Linked DNA regions of Homo sapiens. The protein of the gene in region 1 interacts with the protein of each later gene in a biochemical or structural test. Each region holds a gene or a part of one and is shown in the gene's direction. Other genes may lie near its edges.

Region 1 (3,750 bases):
CCTGGGTGACAGAGGGAAAGTGTCTCAAAAAAAAAAAAAAGTATTGTGGTCAGGCATGGTGGCTCACGCCTATAACCCCAATACTTCGGGAGGCTCTGAGGCAGGTGGATCAACTGAGGTCAGAAGTTCAAGACCAGCCTGACCAACATGGTGAAACCCCGTCTCTACTAAATACAAAAACTTAGCCAGGCGTGGTGGCATACACCTGTCATCCCAGCTACTTGGGAGGCTGAGGCAGGAGAATTGCTTGAACCCGGGAGGTAGAAGTCTCAGTGAGCTGAGATTGTGCCACTGCACTCCAGCCTATGCAACAAGAGCAAAACTCCGTCTCAAAAATAATTTTTAAAAATAAAAATTTATTGTTTATTTATTTTTTGAGACAAGGTCTTGCTCTGGTGCTCAGGCTGGAGTGCAGTGGCACAATCACGGCTCACTGAAACCTCCACCTCCAGGAGTTCAAGACCAGCCTGGGCAACATGGTGAAACCCATCTCTACAAAAACTAGACAGCTGTGGTCTCAGCTACCCAGGAGACTGAGGTGGGAGGGTCACTTGAGCCTAGGAGGTAGAGGTTGCAGTGAGCTGTGACTGCACCACTGCACTCCAGCCTAGGTGACAGAGTGAGACCCTGTCTCAAAAAAAAGGGGGGGGGGATACCAGTCTTAACTGGATGAGGTACAATGTGACTTCATTTTACCTTAATCACCCTTTAAAGACCCTGTCTCCAAAGACAGTCACCTTATGAGATACTGAGTGTTAGGACTTAAACATATGCGTTTGGTTGCGGGGGGACATGATTCAGTCATATCAAGGTGGGGAATGGAGTGGTGTAACTGCTGATGGGTGTGCGTCTCCTTTTTGGGGTGGTTAAAATGTTCTGGAATTAGTGGCAATTAATGTGCATCTCTGTGAATATACTAAAAACCACTGAATTGCCCAGCCAGAAAGGATAAACTTTTGCCCTGGGGCAGGAAGAAGGCTGGCATGCAGAGAGAGGAGAAAGGGGGGCTGGATGAGCTGGCCTGCTAGCGGGGGCCCCAATACTACATAAGACCTTGCCCTTCTCCACAGTATCTGGTGTTAAATCTCATTATGAGGACCCTTTCAGCCCGGGGTTGGGATTGGAAGTGAGACATTGAAACTTCAAGGGCTGGGTTCTGGCCCGGGTGGGGATTTGCCATGGAGCAAAATAGCCTCTTGCAGCACATGCGGGGTTTCCTGTGCCGGGCACTGTCCTAAGTCCTTCTCAACTCTTTCGTCATTGAGTTCTCATAGCAGTCCAGTGAGCCAGGTACCATTCCTCTCTTCAGTCCACGGTGCCAGGTCACTTGGCTAGGGTCCCACTGAGAGTTCGAAGGAAGCCAGGCTAGAGCTCAGGCCTCTCACCAGCTGGAGGTCTTTCCCAGACTCTCTAAGGTGAGAGTTGGTGAATGGTGTCAGCCTGGGCCTGGATGAGTGACCCACGGTGCTCAGTGAATTTCAGGAACAGAGCCAGGGGATGCTGCGGTCAGGGGTGTCTTGATGGGGAAGAAGCAGGGCTGGGCGCTCACCTGGCTTCCCCGGACCTGCAGGTCCAGCCTCGCTCTCCTTCCCCCGAGCACCTCTAGCCCAAGGCCTGCCCACTTGCTGGAGCTGGCCCCTTGGCAAGGCTGCTGGGAGGGCCCGTGCTGCCAGGGCGGTCAGGGTCAGTGTCAGAGGTGCCTAAGGGACGCCCAAGGGGGTGCCCAGGTGGCAAGGTGCCTGTATGCTCAGGGAAGCCACGTCCCAGCTCGCGGGTGGGTGCAGCAGAGGCCCACGTGACCTTGCTGCTGACATTCCTCAGAGGCCATGTGGCCCCAACTGGCAGCGACAGCTGCAGACGGGCTGAACCAGCTTTGTTCCCAGGGTGGCGCCTGCTCTCCATCCAGGCCCCATTCCGGCTCCCACCCGACGCTGCTTTTGTTCCCACGTTTCGGGGGGCAGCTGGCACTGTGATTCCTGCCCCATGAGTGCCTAGAGGCACGGAGCCACCAGGGATCACCCCACGTGGGACACAGGGCTTGGGGAGGATGGGGCAGGACCAGACCAAGCAGCAGATCGAGAAGGGGCTCCAGCTGTACCAGTCCAACCAGACAGAGAAGGCATTGCAGGTGTGGACAAAGGTGCTGGAGAAGAGCTCGGACCTCATGGGGCGCTTCCGCGTGCTGGGCTGCCTGGTCACAGCCCACTCGGAGATGGGCCGCTACAAGGAGATGCTGAAGGTGGGTGTACCCGGCCTGGGGGCGTTCGAGGGTCAGGCTGGGGCCGGATGTCTCCCAGGCTCCCCAGTCCCCTCTCGGCCTCCTCGGGCTCCCCTGTGTCCCACAGGCTGGCAGCCAGGGCCCGAGGCTCTGAATTTATATCTAAGGCCCTGGGTCTTAGATACTGAGTCTTGGCATCAGATTCAGGCCTGTGGCCTTGAACTGTGGTGCCCGAGTCTCTGAGACTGAGGTTCTCCAGCCTCAGGGTCGAGGGTTTGTGGGTCTCAAGCCCATTGTAGGTTTCAGCCTTCCTGTCTGGTGTTCTGTGTCTGAGCCTGGCGGGGTGTGGGCTCCAGGGTTGCGGCTGGGGGTGGGTGGGTGGTGGAGACTCCAGATCTGAGGCTTGGGATAGAAGGTGAAGGCTGCAAGCCTGAGCTTGGGAGGTGAGGCTGGGGTGTAGGGAAGGTAGCTGAGGCTGGCGGGTAGAAGCTCTGGGTCTGAAAAGAAGCTTTGGGATCTGCTGCTTTGGGTGTGAGGCTGGGGGGTGGGTGTGGGGCCTCCAGGTCTGAGCCTGCAGTGCAGGCTGGGGTCCAAGGCTCAGAGTCCAGGCTGAGCACCACCTGCCCACCGTCGCTGTGTGCAGTTCGCTGTGGTCCAGATCGACACGGCCCGGGAGCTGGAGGATGCCGACTTCCTCCTGGAGAGCTACCTGAACCTGGCACGCAGCAACGAGAAGCTGTGCGAGTTTCACAAGACCATCTCCTACTGCAAGACCTGCCTTGGGCTGCCTGGTACCAGGGCAGGTGCCCAGCTCGGAGGCCAGGTCAGCCTGAGCATGGGCAATGCCTTCCTGGGCCTCAGCGTCTTCCAGAAGGCCCTGGAGAGCTTCGAGAAGGCCCTGCGCTATGCCCACAACAATGATGACGCCATGCTCGAGTGCCGCGTGTGCTGCAGCCTGGGCAGCTTCTATGCCCAGGTCAAGGTGGGCCTGCACCCCAGGGGGACAGCAGTGGAGGGTTTTGGGGCTCCCCTCTCATGAGGCACACACCCTGTGGCACTACCTCATTCAGCCCTCCTTTTAGGGAGGGCTGAGGAGAGTGAGAATCAGAGAGCAAAAAGGCTTATCCAGGAAGGTAACAACTTGGCCAGGAAGCCAGCAAGGGCAGAGCCAGGATTCAAACCTTGATCTGTGTGACTTCCTGGAGGAATAATGGGAGGCTCCTCTGTGAGGACAGGCCAGCGGCCTGCACTGCCATGTTTGCTGTGTGGTCTTGGGCAAGTCACCTATCCTCTCTGAACCTTGGGAGAGATCTGTAAAATGAAGGAGAATAGGACTCACCTTACAGTGGGGTTGTATGGAGTCAGTCATCAAATATTTATTGACCAGCTACTGTATCCCAAGACTGTTGACCCAGGGTGTAGCAGTGAGAAAAACAGCCAAGTCCCCGTCCTCACGAGGGTTGCATTCTAGTTGGAGAAGAAAGACGATCAACACAGTCAGGAAGTCAAGTGGTTAGGAGAAAGCGAAGCGG
Region 2 (3,750 bases), on another chromosome or scaffold:
TGCACTATATTGTCGTTATGTACAGTATTTGTTTGTTGATTACCCATTCTCCATGGCTAGAATGTCAGCTCCACCAGAGCGCAGGAATCTTTTGTCTACTTTGTTCACCGTTGTATCTTCTATGCCTTGAAGAGTGCTGCACAGAGTGGCCTCTTATTAAATATTTCACGAAATAATACATATTCACCTTCATTGAAGATGGGACTGATGAAAAAATGATGACAGCCGTGCACGGTGGCTCACACCTATAATCCCAACACTTTGGGAGGCTGAGGCAGACGGATCACTTGAGGTCAGGAGTTCAAGACCAGCCTGGCCAACATGGTGAAACCCCGTCTCTACCAAAAATACAAAAATTAGCCGGGCGTGGTGGCACATGCCTGTAATCCCAGCTACTTGGGAGGCTGAGGCAGGAGAATCACTTGAAACCGGGAGTTGGAGGTTACAGTGAGCCCAGATTGCACCATTGCACTCCAGCCTGGGTGAAGAAGCAAGACTCCGTCTCAAAAAAAAAAAAAAGACAAAATTTTGAGGGATGTAGATTTTGAATGTAGACTTCTATGTTAGCCAGATTGATATTCAGCTGTGATGACTGTCGAATGTATCTGCAGACATAAGGATTCAATCATCCATCTTTGTTTTCTGGAAGAGAAATAATTTACCTTATTGTGTTAATATATTTATATACTAAGTAAAATGCTGTTGTATATATTCGAATGTGTCTGCAGACATAAGGATTCAATCATCTATCTTTGTTTTCTGGAAGAGAAATAATTTACCTTATTGTGTTAATATATTTATATAGTAAGTAAAATGCTGTTGTATAGATACCAGTGTTCTTTTTCTACTTTTTTTTTTTTTTTTTTTTTTTTGAGACGGAGTTGCACTTTTGTTGCCCAGGCTGGAGTGCAATGGCGCGATCTTGGCTCACCGCAACCTCCACCTCCCAGGTTCAAGCAATTCTCCTGCCTCAGCTTCCCTGGTAGCTGGGATTATAGGCATGTGCCACCACGCCCGGCTAATTTCGTATTTTTAGTAGAGACGGGGTTTCTCCATGTTGGTCAGGCTGGTCTCAAACTCCCGACCTCAGGTGATCCGCCTGCCTCGGCCTCCCAAAGTGCTGGAATTACAGGCATGAGCCACTGCGCCCGGCCTATTTTTCTACTTTCTACAATTAGGGAAATACAAGTTAGTATAAGTGACTCAAGAATAAACATTTTGAATAGATTAGCAATCTGCAAAAGATCTTGGAGAGATACTCAAAAATCCATCCTTCAAAAGCATACAGTGGAAAACATTTACAAAGTCTGTTGAAACTTCAAAATAGTTAATTCCTTTATTTACAGTATTCTCTAGAAATACATTAAGACCTTCCCAGTTCATTCTACAGGGCTAGCAAAACCTGCTTTTAAAACTGGAAAATAAGGGCCGGGCCTGGTGGCTCATGCCTGTAATCCCAGCACTTTGGGAGGCCGAGGCAGGCAAAGCACGAGGTCAGGAGTTCGAGACCAGCCTGGCCAACGTGGTGAAACCCTGTCTCTACTAAAAATACAAAAAATTACCCCTGGTGTGGTGGTGGGCGCCTGTAATCCCAGCTACTCAGGAGGCTAAGGCAGGAAGATCATTTGAACTCAGGAGACGGAGGTTGCAGTGAGCCAAGATCGCACCACTGCACTCCAGCCTGGGCGACAGTGTGAGACTCCGTCTCAAAAAAGCAAACAGGCCGGGTGCGGTGGCTCACGCCTGTAATCCCAGCACGTTGGGAGGCCGAGGCGGGTGGATCACGAGGTCAGGAGATCAAGACCATCCTGGCTAACACAGTGAAACCCCGTCTCTACTAAAAGATACAAAAAAATTAGCCGGGCGCAGTGGCGGGCGCCTGTAGTCCCAGCTACTGGGGAGGCTGAGGCAGGAGAATGGCGTGAACCCGGGAGGCGGAGTTTGCAGTGAGCCGAGATCGCGCCACTGCACTCCAGCCTGGGGGACAGAGTGAGACTCCGTCTCAAAAACAAACAAACAAACAAACTGGAGAGTAAGGCCAGGTGCGGTGGCCCATGCCTGTAATCCCAGCACTTTGGGATGCCAAGGCAGTCGGATCACTTGAGGTCAGAAGTTCGAGACCAGTCTGACCAACATGGTGAAACCCTGTCTCTACTAAAAATACAAAAGATAGCTGGGTGTGGTGGCACGTGCCTGTAATCCTAGCTACTCGGGAGCCTGTAATTCCAGCTACTCAGGAGGCTGAGGCAGGAGAATCACTTGAACCCAGGAGGTGGAGTTTGCAGTGAGCCGAGATTGCGCCGCCACTGCACTCCAGCCTGGGCGACAGAGCGAGACTCTGTCTTAAAAAACAAACAAACAAACAAAAAACCAGCAACACCTTTTCTAGGAATATGCTCAAAGAAACTTATACATGAGCACTTGATTCATGAAATGGTGTACCTTGTTCACAAAACATTGCAACTTGTTTCACCATTCATTGGATAATGTGATAGATTTACAACAGAAAATATTTGGCTGGGCACAGTTTCTCACGCCTGTAATCCCAGCATTTTGGGAGGCAGAGGCGGGTGGATTAACTGAGGTCAGGAGTTTAAGACCAGCCTGACCAACATGGTGAAACCCTGTCTTTACTAAAAATACAAAAATTAGTTGGGCGTGGTGGCAGGTGCCTGTAATGCCGGCTACTTGGAAGGCTGAGGCAGGAGAATTGCTGAAACCCGGGAGACAGAGGTTGCAGTGAGCTGAGATCTAGCCAACAAGTGAAACTCAATCTCAAAAAAAAACAAAAAGAAAGAAAGAAAGAAAAAGAAAATATTTGTACAGCAGTGAAAATGGATGAACTATAGCTGCAGGCAACAACATGGAGAAATCTCCAAAATCTAATGTTATATGAAGAAAGTACATCCCATAAGACTACATACAGTATAATACTATTTCTATAAAACAAAGCCTAGTAAGATAAAGCAGAATATCATTAAGTATACATTTATCTGTGATATTGCAGGTTTTGTTTTTTTGTTTGTTTGTTTGTTTTGAGATTGAGTCTCGCTCTGTCGCTCACGCTGGAGTGCAGTGGCGCGATCTTGGCTGACTGCTACCTCTACCTTTCGGTTTCAAGCAGTTCTCCTGCCTCAGCCTCCCGAGTAGGTGGGATTACAGGCGCCCACCACCATGCCCGGCTGATTTTTGTATTTTTAGTAGAGATGGGGTTTCACCGTGTTGGCCAGGCTGGTCTCAAATTCCTGACCATGATCCTCCCTCTTCAGCCTCCCAAAGTGCCTGTGTTACAGGTGTGAGCCACCATGCCCAGCCCAATGCAGGTTTTGTTTGTTTGTTTGTTTTTTGTTTTTTACAAAACTAAATGTGCTTATTGGCTGGGCATGGTGGCTCATGCCTGTAATCCCAGGACTTTGGGAGGCCAAGGTGAGAGGATTGCTTGAGCCCTAGTGAGAGCTTGTCTCTACAGAAAATTTAAAAATTAGCTGAGAATGGCGGCACACACCCATAGTCCCAACTACCCGGGAGCCTGAAGCAGAAGGATCACTTGAACCCAGGAGATTGGTCTTAGGCTGAGGTGGAAGAATCGCTTGAACCCAGGAGGTCGAGGCTGCCTTGAGCTGAGATCGTGCCACTGCACTCCAGCTTGGGCAACAGTGAGATCCTGTCTCAAAAAAAAAACGTGCTTACCGTATCGTTCAACAGTTGCATTCTTGGGTATTTATTTCAGGGAAATTAAAACTCAACACA

The links.
Region 2: the proteins of RAPSN (region 1) and KHDRBS1 form a complex in vitro, tested with the Homo sapiens proteins (one study listed by BioGRID).

The regions. Positions count from the first base shown.
Region 1 is NC_000011.10:47,447,262-47,451,011, reverse strand, and holds the start of RAPSN (43 kDa receptor-associated protein of the synapse), read left to right. Parts: upstream 1-1,875; 5' UTR 1,876-2,047; coding exon 2,048-2,239; intron 2,240-2,861; coding exon 2,862-3,200; intron 3,201-3,574; exon of another isoform or gene 3,575-3,685; intron 3,686-3,750. UniProt on the Homo sapiens protein: Postsynaptic protein required for clustering of nicotinic acetylcholine receptors (nAChRs) at the neuromuscular junction. It may link the receptor to the underlying postsynaptic cytoskeleton, possibly by direct association with actin or spectrin.
Region 2 is NC_000001.11:32,016,753-32,020,502, forward strand, and holds part of KHDRBS1 (KH domain-containing, RNA-binding, signal transduction-associated protein 1), read left to right. Parts: intron 1-3,750. UniProt on the Homo sapiens protein: Recruited and tyrosine phosphorylated by several receptor systems, for example the T-cell, leptin and insulin receptors. Once phosphorylated, functions as an adapter protein in signal transduction cascades by binding to SH2 and SH3 domain-containing proteins.